Linked DNA regions of Homo sapiens. The protein of the gene in region 1 purifies or fractionates together with the protein of each later gene. This does not show direct contact. Each region holds a gene or a part of one and is shown on either strand. Other genes may lie near its edges. The genes, in order: KCTD12 and PIF1.

Region 1 (10,179 bases):
AATATCCAAAGGACACCTCACAGCATGGAGCATGACGAGGTTTATTTCCCTTCACTTATGGTTTACATAGGATATGCATTGGGAATTTATTCCATGTAAGAGTAAAGGCATAAGGCAACCAGGTCTCCTTCTGTTTCTGTTGCATTTACCTATTATTGGACCATTTTATTGCTCAGCTCACTTTTAAGTACTTATTTGCCTTCATTTAAAAATATTCCATTTTACAGCTATCTACAGATAGGCAGCCCTTGGTGCTGAGTTCTCTGCAGCTCGTCATTTGAAAGGATTCCACTTAACTTCAAACAAACTGCATGAAAGTGGCATTTTCAGGTTTTCAGGTTTGCCCAGAAGTCAACGTTTGCTGGGCTTGGAGAAAATAAGGATTTTTAATAAGTGATCTTAGGTCTAAGTAACCAAAATGAAACTTCTTTTGCGCAATAGATTCCAAAATCAGGATTTATAATCAACAAGAAAATAAAAGTTCAAAAACTAAAACCCTACTGGGTAACTCTTTGGTTAGATTATATATAAGCATTAACAACTCTAAGTTTAGGACTCAAAACAGTAAGTTAAGTAAACTGCCAGGTAAGAGTAGGTCTGTTATTAATCTTTATAAAATACTTGGCATGTTTGCATTTACTATATGATATTTTTTAAATGTGCATATACTCAAACAGATGGTACAAACTTCCAACTTTCAAATCATAAATGACTATGTCTGCTTCTCCCTTCCCACCCTTCCTACCCTTTCCTCCCTCCCCACCCCACCCCGCCCACCAAGTCTTACAGCTAAAGGAAGGTCCTACTGACATTCATTGAAAGAATACAGGCTTTCCTAATACCCACGACGTGCACTATGACCCAGCTCCCTACAGTCACTGCCAGGTGACCTCCTACGGCGCTTGGAGACCTGAGCAGCCTTGCACTCTTAGGCGGCAGCGTCCTTTCTCCCTCTTGCCAGTAACTGCTGCCATGTCAACCAGTGGAATCAAGGGCTTCTGGCGAGCAGCAGCTGAAAAGGGCGCCTCTGCAGGCAGGCGGATCACTTTCTATAAGTTTAAGCTACAGGCTGAGACCTTTTATTCTGTACGAGAAAGGATCCTTTACTGTCCCACGCACTAGATTCTTCTACTTTACGTGTAACTTTTCAAAACTTTATTAGTTTAGTTACTGAACTGCCTCCATGGGGTCCTAATTCCAGGCTCAGAATCTTCCATCCAGCCTTCTAAAACTCTACCTTCAAAAGAGGTCAAAAAGACTGTGTAATGACCTTGTAAAACACTAACCCCAGACAGTGGAACCAATCCTGATCTCTTAAACCCCCAGTGAGTCATAAGAGCTTGAGAAGATTTCAAGGAAATCTTCCGCACATTGGACACGGTCCAATCAGGTTCTGAACAATTCAATCATCCCCCGGTCTGTGGCCACACTCCCCCAATAGATCCAAACTGAAGTACCATCTGGGGGAGGGGTGGTTTGAGGCAGGGAGTAGAGAAAGCATGGAGTGGTAGGTGGGGGTGGGGTGGGGGTTCCTCTGGGTTCTCTCGGTTCAGGAGGTCCAAAGAAGACGAAGCAGCCCAGAGGATTTGCGGCTGCAGGTTCTGTAGTGGAGGGAAGGTGGGCGGACAGGTCTCACCCAGCTACTACTGGAGGGGGAGAATGGGAGGGCAGCAGCCAGGGGACAAAGGTGGGACAAGAGGCTCTGTAATCATCTCTCGGGCAGGAGAAGGACTGGGCGCTGGAGTGGCGAGGGGGTCTGGGGAGCTCACTCCCTGCAGAAGACGTACTCGGTGTAGCTGGTCCAGATCTTGTCCTCGCTCTGGTCGGTGCTGCTGGCAAAGGCGCAGGTGCCCGTGGAGCTGCACGCCACCATGTGGAAGCCCGACTCGGACAGCTTGTCGAAGGCCTGCTCCAGGAAGTTGAACTTGAGGTAATAGCGCGAGGTGTAGCGCTCCGGGGGACGGTCGGGGTCCCGGCTTTCGTTCAGGGTGTCCCCAAACACCTCCTTGGCCAGCGACGTCTTTCCGCAAACGGTGATGCGCGCCACTCGCCGGAACTTGGCGTCCGCCTGCGCGTCCCGCCCGATGGTGTAGGAGCCGCGGTAGCCGATGGTGATGTAGCCCGAGCGCCGGCTGCCGTCCAGCGACTGGGACGGCGTGAGCAGCGGGCCCGCCGCGCCCCCGGACGGACTGCGGCTAGCCAGCTCCAGCGTGGGCGACGGCGCCCCGGCAGAGGCGCCCTCCTGCTGTTCGGGCTCCGAGTAGCCAAGCGGCAGCAGCTCGTCACCCAGCGAGCCCTCCTTGTGCACCCCGCGCCGCGAGGGCGGCGGCCCCGGGCCGGGCTGCTGGGGCGCCCCGAGGCGGCGCACGAGCTCTGGCAGCTCGAAGTACTCGGCCTCGCGCTGCAGCCGGCTGCGCTCGGGGAAGTAGTCGGGCAGCACGAGCTGCAAGTCCCGCAGGTAATCCAGGATGTAGCGGAAGAGGAAGCCGTCCCGGTCCAGAAAGAAGCGGCCTTTGCTGTCCCGGGCCAGCTCCTGCGGCTGCTGCTGCGTGAACATGCGCCAGAGCAGCGAGTCGGGCACCGACACCACCGTGCAGCGCCGGGTCACGTACACCTGGCCCCCCACGTTCAGCTCCACGATGTCGGGGAAGAGCGGTGGCTCCGCGGAGGACGACGAGGAGCCACTGCCGCCCCCGCCGCCGCCCCCGTTGGGTAATCCACGTGTGCTGTCCGCCAGAGCCATGACAGAGAGGTGGCCGGGCCGGGACAGTGGCAGGAAGCCGCGCTGCACTCAGGAGCTGCAACCGCCTTCCCCGGAGCCCCGGAACCCGGACGCTCGCTCAGCCCTGCGCCCCGCCGCCGCCGCCGCCGCCACCGCCGCCACCGCCACCGCCGCCACCTCCTAGAGCCGCGCGGAGCCGAGCGGTGCGAGCGCGCCGCTGTGCGCCCCCTTGAGTTCCAGTGCGCTCCGCCCGCCTTGCCCGCGCGCTCCAGGCGAGTGCCGGGTCGCGGCCCGCGCGCTGCTTAAGTAGAGCCGCCTGCTCTGGTGCCGTGGCGCGCAGGAGGCGTGGGCGGCGGCGGAGCCTCGCTTACCGGGCGAGGGGAGGTGGGGAGCGGGGACTCGATTTGCATCTTAAACGCGGACGCCACGCGGGGCTGCTGGCTCCACCCCGGCTCGCGAGCGCTGGGGGCGCCCGGACTCCCACCCGCTCCCCACCCACCAGCCCCGCCCCGTGGTCCCGCCCAACTTTCTCCCTCTTCCGAAGAGGACCCGCCCGAGACTTGGCGGCTTCGGAAGACAGCTCCTTGGAGGGACAGTCACCGCGCCCCCTCCCCTCTCGCCCCAGCCCGCACCCAAGGACTCTGGAAGGAGGACGTGAACTTTCGGAAGCCTGTCGCCCCGGGAGTGGAAATGCGTGGCCGCCTCCGGCCCTCCCGCCTGCGGAACTGGGCGCTTCCAGCAGTGCAGCTGCGGCCTGCCATCGTTGGTTGTCGTGTCACTGAAAGTAGAGAGACGCGAAAAACCTGGAGAGACGAAAGAGCCGCCCCAGTCCGAGCGCAGCCAGATTTTGTTCAAGTTGCCTTGCAGCCAGCCTGGAAAATAAATAAATAAACCTAGAAACAAAAAGCAAACCTCAGTGTCCCGCAGTAGGATGCTTTACGATAGTTTATTTTCTGGCTGCAGAGACAAAATGAGATGAAGCTTCAAATCTGCTCTTAATTGCAATTCCCTCTTCCCGCAGGGCCTTCGAGGCACTTCACTTCGAAGTGAAGGGGTAAGACTCCGGAACGTTCGGTCTCCGGGTCCCATTCAGCCTTCGTTGAATCGCGCCCTTAGACTCACAACAGTTGCAGATCTAACGTAATTTTTAAAGCCACCTTTGGCGCCTGCATGTTTATCCTTCCAAAAGTCCAGGCGCCCCTTCTCTCCCGCATGCCTCGGTCACTCTTCGGCCCTGTCCAAGTTCCCGTCAGTCTCAGAAAGGGATATTTATATATCTGAAGGCCCTTGTCTGGATCCCATCTCTCAACTCCTGCTGCCTACACGTTTGCTTTTCCCCCTCGGACTGCAGCCCACAGAACCGCCCCCTCCCCCTGGAAGCTTTCCCTGGCTTCCCAGGTGGGTGGGGCCTCTGGATGGCTCCCTACACACTGTCTGCGCTGCTCCCAGCACGTTCTGAAATGTCATATTTATGAGTGATTATCTGATCACTGATTTGGGTATGAAAATAAGTAAGAGCTCCTGAATGCTGCAAAAAGAGAAGAGTGCAGAGGAGGGTGTCAAGAAATGATTGGGTCACTGAATGTTTCTTGTGTACCTGCTATTATTTGCAGGGCACCAGGGAGTGAGGAATGCAAAGGCGAATAATCTCCAAAGCGCTTTCAGTGTAGCCCAATAAGCAAAGGGTCAGGGGTCTGCGCAGTTATCACATCAGTTTGAAGTATAGACCACACATCAGGATAAATCAGGCAAGATCTTTGTTCTTGATAAAATTTATCCTTCTGTGTAACTACCCAGTGAGCTTCACAGTCTCCTCACAGATAAATGTCATTTTTATTTTGAAATGTTTATATCTGCTCAACAATTACCGCGCTCATGTCAGTGTGCTGAAATGAGATCAACCCCCAAACCAGTTATCTTAATTGCAAGTACAGATTTTGATACTGAATGTATTTCAACATTCTTTTTTTGTTGTTGTTCTGTTCTTTGGGATAAATAATAGATAACACAAAACTTCCAAGTCCCAGTGCAGGATTTCGAGGTGGTTGTGCTACTAGGCGTTATATTAGTGTCAGAGACCTGACAAAACCAGCCTCTTTTCTACAAATCCAAGAAAAGCCTTCTTTGTATCAGTTCTGCACATATTTTTGTATAATTACCATTGCTCATTGCATCAGCAAATCCTGCCAGCTCTGTGTTAAAAATCTTTCTAGACTATTAACGTATTTCACCATCTCCCTATCATCACCCTGGACCAAGCCACCATCATCTCTTGCCTGGATTATTGCACTGGTCTCCTAACTGCTTCTACTTCTGCTCCTACAGTCTTGTATCACCAGAACAAAAACAGGGACCCTGCTTATAATCCAAGGCTGGTATGTCACTCTGCTCAGAGCCTGCCAGTGGCTTCCTATCTCAGAAAGAGCAAAATCCAAAGTCCTCTCAGTGGCTTACAAGACTCTACATGTTTGGAGTTATCCCACCAGCACCTCTCTGACACATCTCCTGCCCTGCCCCCAGGAGCTGGCTGGCTTTAGCCACATAGCCCCTTTCTTGTTTTCTCAGGGCCTTTGCACATCCTTGTAAAAGTCTCATTTCTCCTCCCTCCCGTGTTCCTCACCTTGTTCAGGTCCCTCCCTTCTCACCTTCTTCAGGTCTGCCCAGCAAGACCTTTCCTTGATTCCACTTCTTAATGCAGCACAGCCTCACTGCAGCTTCCTCTTCCTTGCCTTATTTGTTGACTCTTTTCCTACATCAGAATATAAACTCCAAGACTTCAGCAGTTTTTGTCTGCTTGGTTCACTGCCACACCCCCACTGCCTAGAACAGAGCTGGTATATTACAGGCATTTGATAAATATCTGTTGCTCACGCAAGCATTCAACCACTATTTATTCAGGGCCTACTACTATATTCCAGGCTGCATGTTAAAAAATAATCACTGCCCACTAGGAGCTTATAGTCTTGCGAGGGAGACAAATAAATATAGTATAAAGATAAGTAAGCCTATTTCAGGTGGTGATAAATGCCACAAAGAAAATAAAATTATAAGATGTGATAGAGGGACTGAGTGTGGAATACTACTTTATACAGAGTGCCTGGGGAAGGCATCTCTGTGAATGTGACATTTGAGCTGAATAATAAGAAAGAGACAGCCATGGGAAGTTTTGGAGGAAGAGCATTCCAGGCACAGGGTCAAACAAGTTAAAGGGGCCTGAGTTATGAGTGAGCTCACATTGAAAGTTTATGTATTGTGTCATCTACTTGTATCCTGTGAATCTCCAAAGTACCCTTGAGATGATCAGTACAGAGTCAAATGTGAGTGATACCGTGTGCTTATTCACTACCTGCAGCCTACTATCATCATTCTCTACATCTTGACATAAGGTAGTCATCAACCACCAGCTAGTCTACTGCAGAAAAGCCATTGGTATTTCCTTATGGAAGCCAGGTAATGCATGAGAGATATAATAATGAATGAAACAGGTGATTTGAAACACAAGGAATGTTTTTCTAGTTAATTTTGTGTGTTCTGTTTCTTGCCTATTGGTTGGTATCACAGAATTCAAAAGGAAATACTACTGGGGAACTCTGATGCTGGGACTTGAGGGCCTGAGTGTTTATAAGAAGAGAGTCATAACTCTTTAGCATCTCCAGTATGTTAAATATGCTTGATTGCAAGGGATTGGGGAGGATTTGGAAACCCACTAGCCCTGTGTTTAGTCTCAAACCAGTTTCTAATGATGGTCATTGCTAATTGATGGTCATTGCTCCTTTTCAAGTAACTCTTTGTATTTTCCTGAATAAGATACAGTGTGCCTGCAAGTAACCTGTCCTTTGATCCTAAAGTGGAGGATACTGGAAACATCTCTGGACCTACATTCTCATCTCATTTGCATCTTCTCCCCCACCTACTGCCTTCTCTTCAAACCAGCTTCCCCTCCCACTCCCCACAGTAATCCTTCTTATCCAAAGTTTCCATTACCATGGTTTCAGTTACCCATGGTCAGCTGTGGTTTGAAAATATTACATGGAAATTCCAGAAATATAACTAATTCATAAATTCAAAATTGCACACCATTCAGAGTAGTGTGATGAAATCTCCCACTGTCCTGCTTCGTCTTGCCCTGGACATGAATATCCACACCTCTACACTCCCAACCCATGAGTCACTTAGTAGCCATCTCAGCTGTCAGATCAACTGTCTTAGTATCACCCTATCACAGTGCTTGTGTTCAAGTAACACTCAGTTTACTTAATAAATGGCCACAAATTACAAGAGTAGTGATGCTGGCAATTCAGATATGCCAAAGAGAAGCCATAAAATGCTGCCTTTAAGTGAAAAGGTGAAAGTTCTCAATTTAATAAGAAAAAAAAAGTTACATCCCAAGGTTGCTAAGATCTATGATAAGAATGTAGACATTGTGAAATTTCTGTGAAATTATGAAGGAAAAATTTGTGCTAGTTTTGCTGTCACACCTCCAAACACAAAACGTATGGCACAGAGTGCATGATAAGTGTGTAGTGAAAATGGAAAAGGCATTAAACTTGTGGATTGAAGACATGAAGAGAAACATGTTCCAATGGACAGCAATCAGGTTCAGTACTACCTACGGTTTCAGTCACCCACTGAGGGTCTTGGAATGTATACCCTTTGTATGAAAGGAGACTACTGTATTCTGCATACCAAAGATTTAAGGAAAGGAATGAGGAACATGAAGAGAAATATAAAGTTAAAGGGGAGGAAGAACTGGTGAAATGAAGTGAGTGCCTTTGAGAATTGAATGAATTTAATATATGTGAAAATGATCTGTACATTGTAAAACACCATTCAAGTGTCAGAATCATTATTTTCCACCACTTATCATGGTGCTTGACAAGTCTTCCCAATAAATACTGAATGAACAAATGAATGGCAGAAACATTAAAATGAACACTATGGGGAAAGGGGAAGAGAGGCAGAATCAGAAATTATCCTGAATAAATATTTATTCCATTTGTCATCCTCCTAATATGTGTGAATCTTTTCTCCATGCAGGCTTTAGAAGTCATTGACTTTTTGCATTTAGAAGGAGAGATTAATTGAATAACATTAAGTGAATCCGGAGGCAAAATGATCTTAATAAAGATTTGGTAAAAGATGTGACAATATTTAACCTGAAGAAAAGAGAACAAAATGTTATATAGGGTACACTGCCAAAATACTAGGTCTAAATTCCAGTTACTCAGGAGGCTGAGGCAGGAGAATTGCTTGAACCTGAGAGGCAGAGGTTGCAGTGAGCCAAGGTCGCACCACTGCACTCCAGCCTAGGCAACAGAGCGAGACCCCATCTCAAAAAACAAAACAAACAAAAAAAAAAAACAGGTCTAGACAGTAAAGAATATCCCAACATTGTATGATTATCTCTAGAGTATGATTTTTATGATTTATAGAACCAAACAAAGAAACAAAAGTTAACAATGTTGATATTTCTATACCCTTAAGATGGTGTTTGGAGCTTATCCAGGAAACAAATAATATAACAAGCATGTATAGAGTACTTACTATGAGCCAGCCCTATTTATAGAACTATACATGTATGAACTCATTTAATCCTAACAATAACTTTATGAGGTTGGTGCTATTACCCAAGTTTTAGATGAGAAACTGAGGCACAGTGAACTAATTTTCCCAAGATCATACAGCAAATAGGTGCTGGAGCTGGGATTTGAACCCAGGCAGTGTAGCCTTAGAATCTGTGCTTTTAAACACTGCATTTTAAATCCCCTTTCCTCTAGGAGTGCTTTACATGTATTAAGAAGTAAGTTATATTATTTTCCCCCTTTACAGATGAGAAACCCAAGGCAAAGAGAAGTAAGGTAACTTGACCAAGATAACACAGCTCTTTATCTCTGCTGGGGGCAGAAATGCTACTCTAAAGTCTACGTGCTTGTGTTCCGCAGTACTGGTAACCAGAAACTCAAAGTAGCCACCCTGAAAGAACTAGGGTTAAGAAAGAGTCAAGTCCTTGGCCCTTATTTCTTCTTTCTGCCTTCTTTTTTCCTTCCAACCTATTTTAGGTTTATGGGTACCTGTGCAGGTTTGTTACACAGGTAAATTGCACGTCGCAGGGGTTTGGTGTACAGATTATTTCATCACCAAAGTAATAAGCATAGTACCTGATAGGTAGTTTTTGGATTCTCACCTTCCATCCAACCTCTACCCTCAAGTAGGCTCCAATGTCTATTGTTCCCTTCCTTGTATCCATGTGTACTTTTACCCAAATAAGAATCTCTATTTGAGCCCCTGGATAGAACTGACACACTATTGTCCTAATCTTTCCCTAATTCAGTCCTGTACACAAAATAAACAAGATTTTATTTCTGGCTCTCTCAAATATCATTACGGTTTGCAAAGCACCAAGTTCCTAGCATGTTCATTTGGCTTTATTCTGATCTCATTAACTCTTGACAAGGATAAAGTGAATCCATGGAAACTGCTGAGATCTAGGTTCCAGTTTCCCAAAGCAAGCAGTATCCACTGGTCTTCTGGGGCTCATAAAATTGAACAAGTGCATTCTACTTGTGGCTTTGCATATCAAACTGAACACAAAAATAGCTGGCCCTCATCACTTGAGTGATTCTGGAACTTCTGACTAAGACTAATTATTAACATCACTGATGTTTCATAAGAATTTGAAAGTCTTGGTTTCCAATCATGATATTAAATTTAGAGAGGAACTATATATAAGTTATCACATTCTAATCACATTCTAGTGTTTTTCTGTTTCGAGTGTTTTCATATTGTCAGGTTGACTTAATTATCACAATTTTGTGAGGTGTTAACCAACCTGTGTTCCAAATGAAGAAAGAAACTCAAAAAGGTTAGGTGACTCACACCTCCTCTCAGGTGGCTGGGATGCAGTGCTGGGATGCACGTGGATGCTTCCTGATTTCATATCCCATGCTCTTTGAACTCTTCAGCAGCCATATCAGCTCCATTTAACACCCAAATGAAGGTTGTCATTCAAAATAATCACCTTGAAGACTATATACTCCTTTGAGGGATGCTGGAATCACTCACCATTTTTGGTACATTTGTTTGGAAATTTTCTTCAAAGCCAATTTACACAAGAATATCACCCTATTATTTTATACTTATGTTAAAGTTGTAGTTGATATCTTTCTAGGGCTCTAAAACAGGGCACCTCACTGCAGGACAGACCCACATGCCTGAAAATAAATTAGGACAAAGCCAGTTTTCATGAATGAAACTAAGGTGATGATCATCGGGTATTCACCTTTTGACATTGGGTTTTAAAGATCTCATCCCTAGAGTTCTCTAATATGCTGAATAGCATTGAGTTTAGGTTACTTAGAAAGAAGGGCTGATTCAACTGCAGAGATTTTAATATGTGGTTCCAGAAAGTCTGCATATTTTATTGTGAGGTTTGCACAAGAAGCCAAGCCACTGGCTAG
Region 2 (16,336 bases), on another chromosome or scaffold:
TCGGGACCCCAATAGTTGCTGGCAAGCTCTCCAGGCAAACCCAAGAGCTCCATGGAATGAAGGCAGTAGAGGACAAAGGGTTACCAGGCCCAGCATTGCACATGGGCCAAGAAGGGTGGGGGCAATGCCTAGCGGGTGGGAGGATGCTCTGAGATAGCTCTGTTCCCCCCAGGAAGCCCCAAGGTGGCCCCTGCCTGTGAAGAGGCTGAGCTTGCCCTCCACCAAGCCACAGCTTTCTGAGGAACAGGCTGCTGTGCTGAGGGCCGTCCTGAAAGGCCAGAGCATCTTCTTCACTGGGAGTGCAGGTAGTGGGGGCAGAGAGGAGGTAGGGGGACAGTGGTGGGGTGGGATAGAGGAACAGGGAGACCTGTCTAACTTTGCCCCTGTCCAGGAACAGGGAAGTCATATCTGCTAAAGCGAATCCTGGGCTCACTGCCCCCCACAGGCACTGTGGCCACTGCCAGCACTGGGGTGGCAGCCTGCCACATCGGGGGCACCACCCTCCATGCCTTTGCAGGTAAGTAGGAACCCCTAGGGCTTGAGCTAAGAGCAAGCCCAGCTTCTGGGAAGGGAGAGAGGGGAGGTCTGCATAAAGAGGGAGTTTTGGGGGCTGGGCGCCGTGGCTCACTCTTGTAATCCCAAAACTTTAGGAGGCCAAGGTGGGAGGATCGCTTGAGCCCAGGAGTTTGAGACCAGCCTGGCCAACACAGTAAACCCTGTCTCCACAAAATTTAAAAATTAGCGGCCGGGCGCAGTGGCTCACGCCTGTAATCCCAGCACTTTGGGAGGCCGAGGCAGGCGGATCACAAGGTCAGGAGATCAAGACTATCCTGGCTAACACGGTAAAACCCTGTCTCTACTAAAAATACAAAAAAATTAGCCAGGCATGGTGGCAAGCGCCTGTAGTCCCAGCTACTCTGGAGGCTGAGGCAGGAGAATGGCGTGAACCCAGGAGGCAGAGCTTGCAGTGAGCCGAGATCACGCCACTGCACTTGAGCCTGGGCGACACAGCGAGACTCCATCTCAAAACAAAACAAAACAAAATTAGCTGAGCATGGTGGTGTGTGCCTGTAGTCCCAGCTACTATGGAGGTTGAGGTGGGAGGATCGCTTGAGCCCATGAGGCCCAGGTTACAGTGAGCCAAGATCGTGCCACTGCACTTCAGCCTGGGTGACAGAAAGAGACCTTCTCTCAAAAAAAAAAAAAAAAAAAAAAAAGAGAGGCTTTGGGTATTAGCCCAGGCTGAATAGTGTCACTCACAGGCATCGGCTCAGGCCAGGCTCCTCTAGCCCAGTGTGTGGCCCTGGCCCAAAGGCCAGGCGTGCGGCAGGGCTGGCTGAACTGCCAGCGGTTGGTCATTGACGAGATCTCAATGGTGGAGGCAGACCTGTTTGACAAACTGGAGGCCGTGGCCAGGTCAGTATGTTCAGAGGGCAGCAGGTGAGAACTGGGACCTGGTGGTCTTCTGTGTGCCCCTAAAGCACCCCACGCTCCTCTCCAGAGCTGTCCGGCAGCAGAACAAGCCATTCGGAGGGATCCAGCTCATCATCTGTGGGGACTTTCTGCAGCTGCCACCTGTGACCAAGGGCTCCCAGCCCCCACGGTTCTGCTTCCAGGTATTACTCACCTCCTAGCTCTGCTCTCCTTGGGGGTCTGCTCTGCTCCTTGACCCACCCCCACCCTGCCCCCACCAGTCCAAGAGCTGGAAGAGGTGTGTGCCAGTGACCCTGGAGCTGACCAAGGTGTGGAGGCAGGCAGACCAGACCTTCATCTCTCTACTGCAGGCCGTGAGGCTAGGCAGGTGAGCTCTGCTGGTTGGGGAAGGGGCTATGGGATGAGGATCCAGGCATGGGCCACAGTGGAACACAGAGAGGGACTCACAGAAGGGGTAGAATTGTTACCCTCAGGAGCAAGCACTCCATGCAGGAAGAGGAGCCTTGGGCAGGGCACTGGACAACTCAGGATGGATTGTAGTCAAGACCATCATGGCACCATAGGAGATGGTTGCTCTGAGTGCTGGGACCTAGCCTCCCTCAGGGTTGGGTCTCCATCACCTAGCACAAGGCCTGGCATAAAGTAGGTGTCAGGGGCTGGGCACGGTGGCTCACGCCTGTAATCCCAGCACTTTGGGAGGCTGAGGCAGGCGGATCACAAGATCAGGAGTTTGAGACCAGCCTGGCCAACCTGGTGAAACCCAGTCTCTACTAAAAATACAAAAATTAGCTGGGCGTGGTGGCACGCACCTGTAGTCCCAGCTACTTGGGAGGCTGAGGCAGGAGAATCGCTTAAACCAGGGAGGCAGAGGTTGCAGTGAGCCAAGATCATGCCACTGCACTGCAGCCTGGTGACAGAGCGAGACTCCGTCTCAAAAAACAAAAACAAAACAGAAACATAAGCTAGATTTTTCACCCAAGGTAGGAGGCAAGTGGATAGAAGATTGTACCCTGGAGGCCAATCTGGGTCCTGCAAATCTCCAGCCTGTGCTCACTCATCATAGCCAACTTCCTCAGGAGTATTATGGAGTGCGAGGGTGGCCAGCTCTGACCTGGGGCAGCACAGGGAAGGGTGCCCACATGTGATCAAAGCTCAGTACCCTGCCCCTGCTTATTCCCCATGTTTGGGGTCCAAGTTTGGAAGGGACAGGTTGGCCAGCTTGAGGGGGCAGCAACTCTTCCCTGGTGCCCTCTTCCAGTCCCAAGGCCTGACCCATGGCCTGCTGCTTGAGCCATCCTGCCCATGTTCCCCACCTCCCCTGCTGCACAGGTGGGCTCTGCCCTGACAGTCCAGCCCCAACAGGTGTTCAGATGAGGTGACCCGCCAGCTCCAGGCCACAGCTTCCCACAAGGTGGGGCGAGATGGGATTGTGGCCACGAGGCTCTGCACCCACCAGGATGATGTGGCCCTCACCAACGAGAGGCGGCTTCAGGAGCTGCCAGGTGAGCAGGGAGCCTGGGCTGGGCAAGACCAGCTGGGAAGAGTTATAAGCAGATGTAGCCCCCAGGCAACCTGGGCCTCTGGGTCCTAGGCCCCCAACCTCTGAAGCCATAAAGGCCCTCATATTTGCAAATGCAACTGTGACTTTGAGAGGTGTGATGAACTAAATTCCACAGCCCCCCAGGCCTGCGCTGCCTCTACTCCCTACCCCCGTGCTCTGGTCTAATAGTTTTTTTTGGAGGCTGGGAGCGGTGGGTCATACCTGTAATTCCAGCACTTTGGGAAGCCGAGACAGGCAGATCACCTGAAGCCAGCAGTTCGAGACCAGCCTGCCCAACATGGCAAAACCCCATCTCTACTAAAAATAGAAAAAAATTAGCCAGATGTGGTAGTGGGCACCTGTAATCCCAGCTATTCGGGAGGCTGAGGAGAATTGCTTGAACCCAGGAGGCAGAGGTTGCAGTGAGCCGAGATCACGCCTTTGCACTCCAGTCTGGGCAACAGAGCGAAACTCCTTCTCAAAAAATAAAATTAAATTAAATTAAAATTTAAAAAAAGTCTTTTTTGGGATGCTGAGTCACAAGTCAGTGATTTGTGATCTGTTTGCTCAACTCTTTTTCTCCAGGTAAGGTACACAGATTTGAGGCTATGGACAGCAACCCTGAGCTGGCCAGTACCCTGGATGCCCAGTGTCCTGTTAGCCAGCTCCTTCAACTAAAGCTGGGGGCCCAGGTGAGTGGGAAGCAGGGCCTAGCCCCTGGGAGCTTGGGCTGTCCCGCATGGGCCTTGCTGATCCCTACCCCTCTGCCCAGGCCACTCTGCAGCCAGTGGGCCCAGCTTTGACCACACTGAAAACCTCCCTGCCTCCTGTTCCCACCCACCTTCCCATCTTAAGCTTTCTACTGTTTTTCTCTTCCTACACCAGGAGGTCCTCCAAGCAGTGTTGTTTTGGGCAAATTTCTTTCCCTTGCTGAAGCTCTGTCCCCTCATCCCTAAAAATGGGGAATGAAATACCTACCCCACACAGCTGTCTTCTGTAGTATACTTTATAAACAGGAGACAGTCCTGATTCCTCCCTCAATGTTGGGGGTGGGCAGAAGATTTTCCTTAGGGCACCCAAGGGGAAAATGCAGGCACAGTGTATCTGAGAGGGGTGGCAGGACCTAGAGGCCATCCCTCAAGATCTGTGGTCCACAGATGTACCTATAACCAAGCCAATCATTTTCAAAGCCCTGTGATAGAGGTTGCCTTATTGATCCCTTACCACCTCCTTCTGGGGCAAATTGAGCAAATATTATTCCTCTTTGACATAAAGAAAAATTGGGACCGAGGAAGATAAGGCAACTTGCCCCAGGGGTCACAGGCAGCCAGTGGCAGAGCTAAGGATTGGGATTCAGTGTCCCCATGACAGCTCCCTGCCCTCAGCCTCTGAGAACAGCCATGGCGAAGCTAAGACCAGGCATGGGTAGGGGGGCTGCTGTCCATTCCTCTCTCTCCCTTGCAGGTGATGCTGGTGAAAAACTTATCGGTGTCTCGGGGCCTGGTGAATGGTGCCCGAGGGGTGGTAGTTGGGTTCGAGGCAGAAGGGAGAGGTAAGTGTTGGGAGGAGGTGGCAGTCCTGCTACGGGGCTTTGCAGCATGGCCCCGGGAATGGTGGGGGGAGAAAAAGACTAGGAAGGAAAGCTCCAAAGGCCCCTGCTCCTCACCTCAGAGCCCTGAAGCAGAGCTAAAGTTGGACTGCTCCATGCTCTCCTTAGGGCTACCCCAGGTGCGGTTCCTGTGTGGAGTCACTGAGGTCATCCACGCTGACCGCTGGACGGTGCAGGCCACCGGGGGCCAGCTCCTCAGTCGGCAGCAGCTGCCCCTCCAGCTGGCCTGGGCGATGTCCATCCACAAGAGCCAAGTGAGCACCGGTGTGGGGGGCAGGGACAGGGAGGGCAGAGGGAGGTCAGGCATGTTGCAGTCTATGTGTCTTTTTTTTATTTTTGAGACAGAGTCTTGCTCTGTCGCCCACGCTGGAGTGCAGTGGCGCGATCTTGGCTCACTGCAACCTCCACCTCCCAGGTTCAAGAGATTCTCCTGCCTCAGCCTCCTGAGTAGCTGGGACTACAGGCGCATGCCACCACGCCTGGCTAATTTTTGTATTTTTAGTAAAGATGAGGTTTCACTTTGTTGGCCAGGATGGCCTCAATCTCCTGACCTGGTGATCCACTCACCTCAGCCTCCCAAAGTGCTGGGATTACAGGTGTGAGCCACCGTGCCTGGCCTATGTGTCTTTTTTTATTTTATTTTAGTTTAGTTTAGTTTTTGAGACAGAGTCTTGCTCTGTCGCCCAGGCTGGAGTGCAGTGATCTCGGCTCACTGCAAGCTCCGCCTCCCAGGTTCACACCATTCTCCTGCCTCAGCCTCCCGAGTAGCTGGGCTACAGGCGGCCGCCACCACGCCTGGCTAATTTTTTGTATTTTTAGTAGAGATGGGGTTTTGCCATGTTGGCCAGGCTGGTCTCGAACTCAGGTCATCTGCCCGCCTCGGCCTCCCAAAGTGCCGAGATTATAGGCGTGAGCCACCACACCCAGCCCAGAATAAACTTTTCTTTAGTGAATTTCCAAGTCCACCTCCTCTCCCTTTCCTGGATACATTCACTTCCCCTCTGCCATCTCCTGCCCCACCATTTTCTAAGCCACCACTAGATACGTAAAATTGTATAAATTGTATACAACCACTGTATCAAGTATAAAGTATAGATATAATGAATAATCCTATTTTGCACAGAAAGAAACCAGGGCTCATGTGTCCCATGTCACACAGTTAGTGAGTGGCAGCCTGGATTCAGCTCCACGCCTGTCTGACCCAGAGCCTGAGTGCTTTCCTTTCACTCCATCCCTCAACTCTTACCTGGATCTGTCTCCCGGTCCCCCTCCTACTCAGACAGCCACCTGCTGTCATGCTCTCCCTCTGTCTAGAGACTCTCTGGACTGGACGAGGAGATCCAGGGGCAGTAGCAGGGCTGGTAAAGGGTCAGGCCTTTCGGGGCAAGGGACTTAAGGCTGAGCTGACTCCATCTCTGTCCCTGCATCCCCCAGGGCATGACCCTGGATTGTGTGGAGATTTCTCTGGGCCGTGTGTTTGCCAGTGGCCAGGCCTATGTGGCCCTTTCTCGGGCCCGCAGCCTGCAGGGCCTACGTGTGCTGGACTTTGACCCCATGGCGGTTCGCTGTGACCCCCGTGTGCTGCACTTCTATGCCACCCTGCGGCGGGGCAGGAGCCTCAGTCTGGTAAGAGGGAGTCATCCAGTGGTGGGCTGTGGCCACGGGCAGGGTGGGAGCTAGGACAGAGGGAGCGCCGGCCCAGTGGGACCTGGGGTGGGGGCAGAAAAGCCCTCTGCTGGCTCCTTTAGGGGTGAGGGCAAAAGGAAAGAGATGCTGGCCCCCAGGTTATGGTCCTGGGGAACAGCACAAACCCATGACTGGGCTTCTCTGGCTCTGATCCAGGAGTCCCCAGATGATGATGAGGCAGCCTCAGACCAGGAGAACATGGACCCAATCCTCTGAGCCTCACCCACAAAGAGAAGACAAAGGGTGGCCTGTGGCCTCCCCGTCCTCCTGCTCCCTAGTGGCCCAGGGCCCCAGGGAATAACTGGAGTAGGCAGGCAGTGTCCCCTTCTGTATTTTTTAGGGACTCTCAGCCTCCTGGCAGGGTTAAAGGGAGAGTACTTTAAACCCATATACCAGCTGTGCTTCAGTTTCTCTCACTTTGCCCTGGGTAAGCTGCTGTAGGGTCAGAAGTAACCCTTTCTGTGCCAGTTGAGAATGAGCCTGTGTGGTAGCTGATGTCAGAGGACAAAGCTCTCTGCAAGGGCTGGACACAGAGCTGCAGAGTCCTGAACATCCCTCCTTTCAGGCTGCAGAAGGGAGAGGCAATGAAGACAGGTGCTCCGGAAGCAGCATCAGGGCTCTTGGAGGGGACTGGTGGGGACTCAGGCTGGGTGCAGCCTCCAAACAGAGAACGGAACTTAGGTGTGTCTCTACAGCTAGGCCCAGCCTAGCCCAGCCCAGAACAAACACCCTTCAGAGCCTAACCAAAGAACATAAGCTGCAAAATGTGCACCCATATTTTAAGCTGCTTTTTCAGGGGATAAATAGTGTTTGGGGACATTGAAATGGATGTTCTCAGGTTGTATTTATTTCGGACAAATAAACTAGAGAATTGTGTAAAAACTGTGCCTCCTGCCTCCTCTCTCTCCCCCTCTCACTTGTGCATGTGCACACACGTGTTTGTTTAGGCCACAGTGGCTGAGATCACACCCTTCTGTGAGGTGGTCTTAGTATCACTGGTCGTTTGAAAAGCTGAGTTATCTGATGTTGGTGACTAGCAATAAAATGACATTGTCACCGGGCATGATGGCTCACGCCTGTAATCGCAGAACTTTGGGAGGCCGAGGCGGGTGGATCACCTGAGATCGGGAGTTCGAGACCAGCCTGACTAACATGGAGAAACCCCATCTCTAGTAAAAATACAAAATTAGCCAGGCATGGTGGTGCATGCCTGTAATCCCAGCTACTCAGGAGGCTGAGGCAGGAGAATCACTTGAACCCGGGAGGTGGGGAAGTGGAGGTTGCAGTGAGCTGAGATTGCGTCATTGCACTGCAGCCTAGGCAACAAGAGTGAAACTCTGTCTCAAAAAAAAAACAAAACAGAAATGACGTTGTCATTTGGTGAAGGTGAGTTACCATCACCCAATAGTCAGACATACTAGAGAATTCACGTGGTGGGAAACAAACAGGCCTGCTATATGTTGCTGCATTTGCTAGGAGCCTGGGTTGAAATTTCTCAGTTTGAGCCTTGATGGTCTCCCCAGCTTGAACCTGATCATCAACAAACTAACTTCAGTTTTTCAAAAAGCCTGATGGAAATTGCCCAGGGGTCCTCATAGGCTAGCTAAAACTAAGATTCTCTGCTTGTGAGTGAAAAGGTATCGATTCTGGGTGGTAAATATGGGTTATGATGGAGGCATGCATTGGCAGCTACAGGTGTCAGATTAATAAAAAAGGTGGCTGGGGCCGGGCGCAGTGGCTCACGCCTGTAATCCCCAGCACTTTGGGAGGCCAAGGCGGGCGGATCACGAGGTCAGGAGATGGAGACCATCCTGGCTAACACAGTGAAACCCCGTCTCTACTACAAATACAAAAAAATTAGCTGGGCATGGTGGTGGGCGCCCGTAGTCCCAGCTACTCTGGAAGCTGAGAATGGAGTGAACCCGGGAGGCGGAGCTTGCAGTGAGCTGAGATTGCACCACTGCACTCCAGCCTGGGTGACAGAGAGAGACTCTCTCTCAAAAAAAAAAAAAAAAAAAAAAAGATGGCCTGATAAGGTGGCTCACACTTGTAATCCCAGCATATTGGGAGGCCAAGGCGGGTGGATTGCTTGAGCCCAGGAGTTCGAGACCAGCCTGGGCAACATGATGAAGCCCTTGTCTCTACCAAAAAACAAAAATTTGCCGGGCACAGTGGTGTAGTCCCAGGAGGAACTCTGGAGGCTTGAGGTCAGGGGTTCAAGACCAGCCTGGCCAACATGGTGAAACCCCATGTCTACAAAAATTAGCTGGGCATGGTGGTGCCACCCTCCCTGACCTGGAGAAGTCAATTTTTTTTTTTTTTTTTTGAGACAGAGTCTCGCTCTGTTGCCAGGATGGAGTGCTGGAGTGCAGTGGCACGATCTCAGCTCACTGCAACCTCTGCCTCCCTGGTTCAAGCGATTCTCCTGCCTCAGCCTCCCAAAGAGCTGGGATTACAGGCACATGCCACCAAGTCTAGCTAATTTTTGTATTTTTAGTAGAGACAGGGTTTCACCATGTTGGCCAGGATGGTCTCGATCTCCTGACCTTGTTATCTGCCCACCTTGGCCTCCCAACTGCGCCCGGCTGAGTCAATTGTTTTTCTGTGACACAATTTCTTTTCTCTGTTCCAAACAGAAGACACTCTTAGGAGCAGAAAACAAGCCCACCAGAGTGACACCTCCTTCCCCTACCCCACAACAAGTGGGCAACCATGGGGGTCTTTAAATGTGGTGCCATTTATATGTCAGATGTTCCCAATTTCCCCATGCAACACATCCCTTCTCCCAGGTCCAGCTGTGAGCAGGTCACACTGAGGCCCTGCCCTCAGGGCAGTTACAATCTGGTTGCACTTTGCTGCTTTCACTCTTTCCTTCTACTGAACACACGGTCTGGGGACCACCCAGTTCAGCCCAGATAGCACTATCTCATATTCTCTAACAGCTCTGCAACCTTCGGTGGTCTTGGATGGAAAGAGGAGAAACTGACTCAGGATAATTGAAGCAGGAAAGGAAGATAACAACAGGCTATCTCAAAGAACTGATATGAAGCCCAGAAAACTAGGCTTGGAAACAAATAGGAATCAGAAAGGCTAGAGCCACTGGCAGGAGTAGAGCTGGGAGCAGTCAGGCCAGGAAGACCTTTGCAGCCGCCACCAGACACTGAGCACAGCTGCCAGGGGCAGGAGCTCTGCACTCTGCTACCTCCTCCCCCGATTCAGTTCAGACCTAAAGGCGGGTATGGGGCTGGGTGACCTTGGTCTCCCATGCAAGTCCTGTGGCTACTGGCAAGAGGCCAAATGTTTCATCAAGTTGCAAGAGGGCCTAGTGATTCTGTCCAGGATGACTCTCTAATCACCCCCGAAGGCCGGGTTGTTGGGGATGTCTGAGGGTCCGGTGATGCAGTTATCTTCTGCATCCTCACCTGGGACTCCTCTCTCTGACTCCATCCTCCACACATGGCTGAGGCATCCCACTCACCCAGCCCCTTCCCCTTCCGCAGGGGCTGATCACAGCTTTTCCCAGTCTCATATGCATCTGTCCTGCTATATAAAATGTCTTTCTCGTGAGACTACCTGGGCACCGGAAAGTCCTCTCCTTAGCAATCCCTTCTCATGGTGAAGATGCTCTCTGGAAGGCCCCCAGAGGAAGACAAGTGAGTTCCACATGGTGGGTGAGCTCCAGACATTCCTGACCCGCATGCCAGATCACAATAGTGGATTATTTTATGAGGTGTGCAAGAAACCTCACGGCTCTCTATTTTCTTGACATCTAATTTAACTTAACTTTGAGCCTGTATCCCGAGGGGTGTAGGGAAACCCTATCTCAGTCAGACAGGAGGCTCCTCAATCCCCAGGGTCAAATGAGAGTGGGGCTTATAGGAGCCGCTCTCATCTTCAGGGCCCGCCCTGATCACCATCCATAGGCAGTAACTCAGCCTGGGCCCTGGGATGGGGTGGGAGGCTTTCTGAGACTCTCCAGTACCTCATGCCAGGCCCTCTGGGCCCCTGCCACCTCCCTGTGGTGCTCCCAGAGGACCCTCTGACCACTTGCCCCTCCCCAGTCTATGGAACCCTCCTTCTCTCTGCCTCTCCTTCCCCCCAGCATCATCCTCTCAAGGAACTTTACCTGTGAAGCAAAGGCCAGGAAAGACTGTGTCCTCAGATAACTTCTGGATTTGAGGCAAAGAAGCACAGGGAGAGCCATATACGGTGGCTCGCACCTGTAATCCCGGCACTTTGGGAGGCTGAGGTGGGTGAATCACTTGAAATCAGGAGTTTGAGACCAGCCTGGGCAACAAGGTGAAACCCATCTCTACCAAAAATACAAAAAATTAACCAGGCATGGTGGTGCGTGTCTGTGGTCCCAGGAGGCTGAAGTGGGAGGATCACTTGAGCCCAGGGGGCAGAGGTTGCAGTGAGCCAAGATATCATGTCACTGAAACTCAGGCTGGGTAACAGAGTGAGACTCCAGCTCAAAACAAAACAAAGCAAAAATACACACACACACACACACACACACACACACACACACACACACACACACACACACCCAGCACATGGAAAGGGGCAGGCAGACAGCAAGGGAATGAACAAAGAAATAAGGAAGGTAGAGAGCTTACCCTTAGGCGACCAGGACTTGCTACCTGCCCAAGAAAGCTGCCCTCATATAGCAGGGTGTGGGTGGAAAAACTCCAACTGCTTTTTCCTGTTCTCTCAACAGCAACAACAATTAACACAGAGAGAAGACTTCTGTGACCAAATGCAGGGACTTCTTCCCATCAACAAACAAGCAATTCTGTAGCGGACACTAGCTGGGTGTCCTCTAATTTAATTCTGAAGCTATCTACCTGGAGGCAGCCTCAGATCCCACAGGTTGAGGACTCAGTCACCAAAACTGACAGCCCCTTCAGACAGTCACAAGTCTGGGCCTCTGGAACTTCTGACCGACTGGCTTCAAGTTGGGGTTCCCAAGACCCCCCTCTTTTGGTTTGATTAATTTCCTAAAGTGAGTTACAGAACTCAGGGAAACACATTTATCACTTTATTAGAAAAGGATACGTGGGGGAAGGGGTGTGGAGCTTCCCTCTGTGGGAAAGCCTTCCTCCACTAATATCCACTTGCTCAGCTACCCAGAAGCTCTTAGAACCTCTGCTTTGGGGCCTTTTATGGAGAATTCATTATGTAAGCATGATTGATTAACCATTGGTCATCAATTTAACTTTCAGCTCCCTCCCCTCCCCTGAGGTCATAGGGTGGGGCTGAAAGTCCCAACCCTCTAATCCTGCCCTGGTCTTTCTGGTGACCAGCCCCATCCTGAAGCTGCCTAGGGGCTGCCGGCCATCAGGCAATCATCAGCATACAAAAAGACACTTATCACTTTGGAGATTCCAAGGATTTTAGGAGTTGTATGCCAGGAAATGGGGATGAAGACCAAATGTATATTTCACATTCTTACAGGCTGTGCCACTGCTGATGGGGGCAGGGGGCACCCCTTCATTTCTGTTTCCTTCCTAGTTGGGGGATTTCGCACTCTCCTCTCCACTCTCCCACAGGAAGGCTGGAGTTGACTTTGCCAGGTGGACGAGTTGGAGAAAAGGTGTTTGGAGAGAGGAGCTACACAGTGCAAATGCACAGAGATGTGAACTATCCTTGATGGACCTATGGTCCACTTTAAAGGCTTTAATGCAAGAGAAGGTGGTATGTGGGGAGGCTGGCCTGGCCCTGAGGGGGCTGAGCCCAGAGTAGGGGGCTCAGCCCAGGGCGATCCAGTCCCCAGCTGGGAGGCAGGCAGGGGGCCAGGCAAGAGGGGCGGGGCGATGGCCCTCAGAAAGATAATCTTATGACCTGACTTGTCACAGTTCCTGCCACTTCTCAAAGACATTCACCCTTGGAGGGGGAGTCCCACTACCTGCTGTCCCTCCACTTGCCTCCTGTGCCTTATGCTCCCTCCTCAGTGTCCCCTGGGATCTGCATCTGAGGGTAGTGAGCAATTTACAGCTCAGTCTCCCTGCTAGGATGAAGCGGATCCCTTGATCCCGAGAGACACAGCTGAGATGTCTTTGTGTCCTCACAACCCTCAGCAGGATGACTTTTGAAAGCAGATGCTTCATTAAATGTTTCATAAGTGAACAAAGGCTTGGACAGTGACCTGAGAGGTAAGGAATGTTTACTCCCATTCTGCAAAGGAGGTAGCTGAGGCCTGGAGAGGTTCTTAGTGGCAGAACTGGAACTAGAATAGAACCCTGAGCCCTGTGCGCTCCTTCACCCTGTCTTCAGTGGGGTGCCAACTAGGCCTGACCCCATCCTTTCTGACGTCCTGGTATATTTTTCCCATCCGCACTGGGCTAATGATCTTACTTAACCCCCAATCCCGGAGCAGCCGGGCCCTCCCGCTCCCCATGCACTGCAGACCACTAGGTGGCGCCAATTGGTCATTCAGTCCTTTCCCAGGGAACCGCAGAGCCTTTGTCTCCCAGTCTCTGGGCTTAGGTGGGGGGTGCATGGACACTTTAGGAGGTGGGGGCTGAGTTAGTGTAGAGCAGGGAAGTTTTAAATAATCTTCCATCAGATTATCTGCTTTGTGCTCATTAACCCTCTTGTTGGTTTGTTTTTGTTTTTGAGATAGGGTCTAGCTCTGTCACCCAGGTTGGAGTGCAGTGACGCAGTCAGAGCTTGCTGCAGCCTCGAACTCCTGAGCTCAAGCAATACTCCTGCCTCAGCCTCCCAAAGCATTGGGATTACAGGGGCGAGCCACCATGCCCGGCCTCATTAACCCTCTAGTTTGTTTTTCACAATAACCCTGGGAGGTTGGGACAATTGTCCCCATTTTATAAAGAGAGAAACCTAATTTCTTTTTCTTTTCTCTTTTTTGTTTTTTTGTTTTTTTTGAGACAGTCTTGCTCTGTCACCCAGGTTGCAGTGCAGTGGTGCCATCTCAGCACACTGCAACCTCTGCCTCATGGGTTCAAGCAATTCTCCTGCCTCAGCCTCCCGAGTAGCTGGGATTACAGCTGGCTAATTTTGTATTTTTAGTAGAGACGGGGTTTCTCCACGTTGGTCAGGTTGGTCTGGAACTCCCGACCTCAAGTGATCTGCCTGCCTTGTTCTCCCAAAGTGCTGGGATTACAGGCATGAACCACTGCGCATGGCTGAGAAACCTAACTTCTGAGAGGTTAGGTGACTTGGCTATGGCCACACTGCAAGCTGTATCTGGAACCCAAGTCCCAAATAAAGGGTCCTGGGATTTTTGCAAAGTCAGCAGAGAGCCCTGAAGCCAGATTCCTGTGTTTAAACACTGGCCCCATCAGTTCCCGACTGTGTGACTGTGGTTATTCTGCTTAAATCTGAGCTCTGGTTTCATCGTTGGTGAAATGGGGATAAAGCCGATCAAACATGGATGGAGTTAGGAAGACAGAAGAGCTGGAGTCAGGCCAGGGATGCAGCAAACCCTCAAGGTTAGCTCTTATTTATTTGTCTTGATTATTGTCACCTGAAGGGGCCATCCCCCGCCCCATTAACCCCCTCTTGAGCAGCCTCTGGGGAATAACAAAGAGAATTCACAGCAGCCCAGAGTAAATGAATGCCATCTTTCACAAAGCCTTCCTTCCTGTCTGGCCTTCTGGAGGACCTGGGCTGCGCCCACCCACCATGGGGAAGGGGAGGATGAAATCTCCCCACTCTGCCTCCCGCAACACACGTGAGGTACAGGTCCCGGTCAGTTAGTGCACTTGGGCATAATCCCCCTTCTGTCTTCTGCCCATTTTCTTATGAAAGCGACTTCGACAACTCTAAAGTGGAATTTTTTTTTTTTTTTGAGACGGAATTTCGCTCTTGTTGCCCAGGCTGGAGTGCAATGGCGTGATCTCGGCTCTCTGCAACCTCCCCCTCCCGGATTCAAGCAGTTCTCCTGCCTCAGCCTCCTGAGTAGCTGGGATTACAGGCATGCACCACCACGTCCGGCTAATTTTGTATTTTTAGTAGAGACGGGGTTTCTCCATGTCGGTCAGGCTGGTCTCGAACTCCCAGCCTCAGGTGATCCGCCCACCTCAGCCTCCCAAAGTGCTGGGATTACAAGTGTGAGCCACCGCGCCCAGTCTACAGTGGAATCTTTAGACCTAGTTTACAGAGGAAGTCAAGGCTCACAGAAGGTGGGTGGCCCTAGGTCATATGGCTGTAAATGGCAGATCCAGGTTGGGCATCCAGGTATCTGAGGCCTCACCTTGGTGTTCAGGGCCTTTGAAAAAAGGACTGAACATGGGATGCTTCCTTTCCCCCTAGCTCTGTCCCCAAAACTCCACAGGCCAGACTCCATTTCCTTAAGATTCCAAGAGCATCACCTGCTGGGACAGAAATGGCAGGGGGGTGCCCCTGAGTCCTTGGCCCTGGCAGGCCAAGATGGGAGGGGTGGGGCTTGAAAGGCTTAGAAGGTGACCTTGAATAGGGAATTGGAACCCTAAATTCCTGAGGAGGCCTGGGGCGGGGGCTGTGAATGAGACAGCCAGCCCATCTCCACTCCTCCCCCGCAGCTCCAGCTCCCGCCTTCAGCCTCAGCCTCCAGGCAGATGCCCGCCCCAGGGGTGCCCCCTCAATCCCCGCCCCCAGTGGGTGTTGGGTTCAGTAAGCAGAGCCCCAGCTCACCTGGGAAGGTGCAGAGTGAGGATGGCATCCAGTTACAAGCTAGGGCTGGGAGGACAGGCAGGGGCAGCCCGGGGGCAGGGGCCAAAGGTCTGGAAACTGATGGTGGGGGCAGGTGTCAGGGGAGGTCTCAAGACAGCCCCCCACTCTGCAGGCCCTATCCCCTTGCCTCCCAGAAAACCTCCACACTCCTGGCATCTGAAGACCGGGGCGTCTCCCCGCAGACTAGGCCTGTGCTTGGTAAACTGTGCAGGGCTCTGCGCACTCCTGGGAGGTTGTTCTCTCTTGCAGCTCCACTCCTTTCTCCCTTCCGCCAAGATGGCCTCCTCTCCCGCCCCTCTACTGGGACCTGGCACAGCACTCCATGCCTATTTAAGGCAAATCTCCTGATCTCCTTTTAAATAACATTCGCTCCTTGTTGTGGAGAAAGCAAGCAGGGCCTGAGCTCGGGAAAGGGGAGGAAACCCAAATATCCCATGGAGTGGGTCATGGGGGAGCACGGGTGGGGGAAGCAGGTATGTACTCCCCCTCCCAAAATGAGCCTTGAGAAGGTCCTTTCCCCCATCCCCTGAGTCCTGCTGGTCCCTCATTGCATAGGCCCTGGATTGGCTCGAACCCCTTCAGAGGGGCTGGGGCACTCCCAGAAGGCTAGGACAGGGCAGCTCTTGCAGGCGTTGGGGGAGGGGCATGGGGGGATATATGCTTTGGCTAAAGGAGGGGCATACCCAGGAAGACCGGCAAGGGCCATGGAGGGTCTGAGGTTGGATGGACATCTGACCTCACAGCCCACCCAGTGTGAACGATGCACCAAAACTGCTCTTTGTTAGAACCTGAGGCTCAGAGAGAGCAAAAAACTTGCCCAGGGTCACACAGCCTGAGTGGAAGGGTCTGAAATCCAAGCTGGCAGGCTCCAGATTTAACGCTTTCTCCCCTTCTCTGCCAGGTCTCCTTGTGCCAGGGACTATGTGACACAAGACTTCTAGGCCCTTTTCAGGCATCATTCAAAGCCCTGAGCACACACCCTTCCTCCGCCTGCCTTCCTCTCTTCTGCCTCCTCTCCAGACCCACCAGAGCTGCCTTTCCCAGGTCTTCGGTCCCTGACTCAGACCTGCCCCACTGCTACTTCCTTCTCTCCCACTTCCCCTCTTCCTAGTCTTTCCCCCAGGTGGCTGCCTCCCTGGCCTCCCTTCTAAGCATCGCTAATCCCCCTGTGGTCCTCATATGACTGAGACGCCCTCTCCAGGGTTCAAAAAGATGGTCAGGGATCTTTTACAGATCATGTTGCCTCCTCGGGACCAGGAGCTTACTCCTCAGGCATGTGAGCCCCAGCAGGCCGGCCCCACCCCTGTCAGGCTGGACTGGGGGCTGGGGGACCAGAGGGAGGAAGAAGCCCTAGCCTCGCCTTCCTCTGCTCACTGAGAACTGAAAAAACC

The links.
Region 2: the proteins of KCTD12 (region 1) and PIF1 purify together in Homo sapiens (co-immunoprecipitation; 2 studies listed by BioGRID and IntAct, with this or other methods). This does not show direct contact.

What each region holds. Positions count from the first base shown.
Region 1 is NC_000013.11:76,883,406-76,893,584, forward strand, and holds the start of KCTD12 (BTB/POZ domain-containing protein KCTD12), read right to left. Parts: upstream 3,001-10,179; 5' UTR 2,744-3,000; coding exon 1,766-2,743; 3' UTR 1-1,765. UniProt on the Homo sapiens protein: Auxiliary subunit of GABA-B receptors that determine the pharmacology and kinetics of the receptor response. Increases agonist potency and markedly alter the G-protein signaling of the receptors by accelerating onset and promoting desensitization.
Region 2 is NC_000015.10:64,806,447-64,822,782, reverse strand, and holds the end of PIF1 (ATP-dependent DNA helicase PIF1), read left to right. Parts: intron 1-172; coding exon 173-305; intron 306-391; coding exon 392-517; intron 518-1,262; coding exon 1,263-1,416; intron 1,417-1,501; coding exon 1,502-1,616; intron 1,617-1,694; coding exon 1,695-1,801; intron 1,802-2,763; coding exon of another isoform or gene 2,764-2,779; exon of another isoform or gene 2,780-2,796; coding exon 2,797-2,936; intron 2,937-3,559; coding exon 3,560-3,666; intron 3,667-4,438; coding exon 4,439-4,526; intron 4,527-4,691; coding exon 4,692-4,837; intron 4,838-6,017; coding exon 6,018-6,209; intron 6,210-6,425; coding exon 6,426-6,485; 3' UTR 6,486-6,834; coding exon of another isoform or gene 6,835-7,092; 3' UTR 7,093-7,151; downstream 7,152-16,336. UniProt on the Homo sapiens protein: DNA-dependent ATPase and 5'-3' DNA helicase required for the maintenance of both mitochondrial and nuclear genome stability. Efficiently unwinds G-quadruplex (G4) DNA structures and forked RNA-DNA hybrids.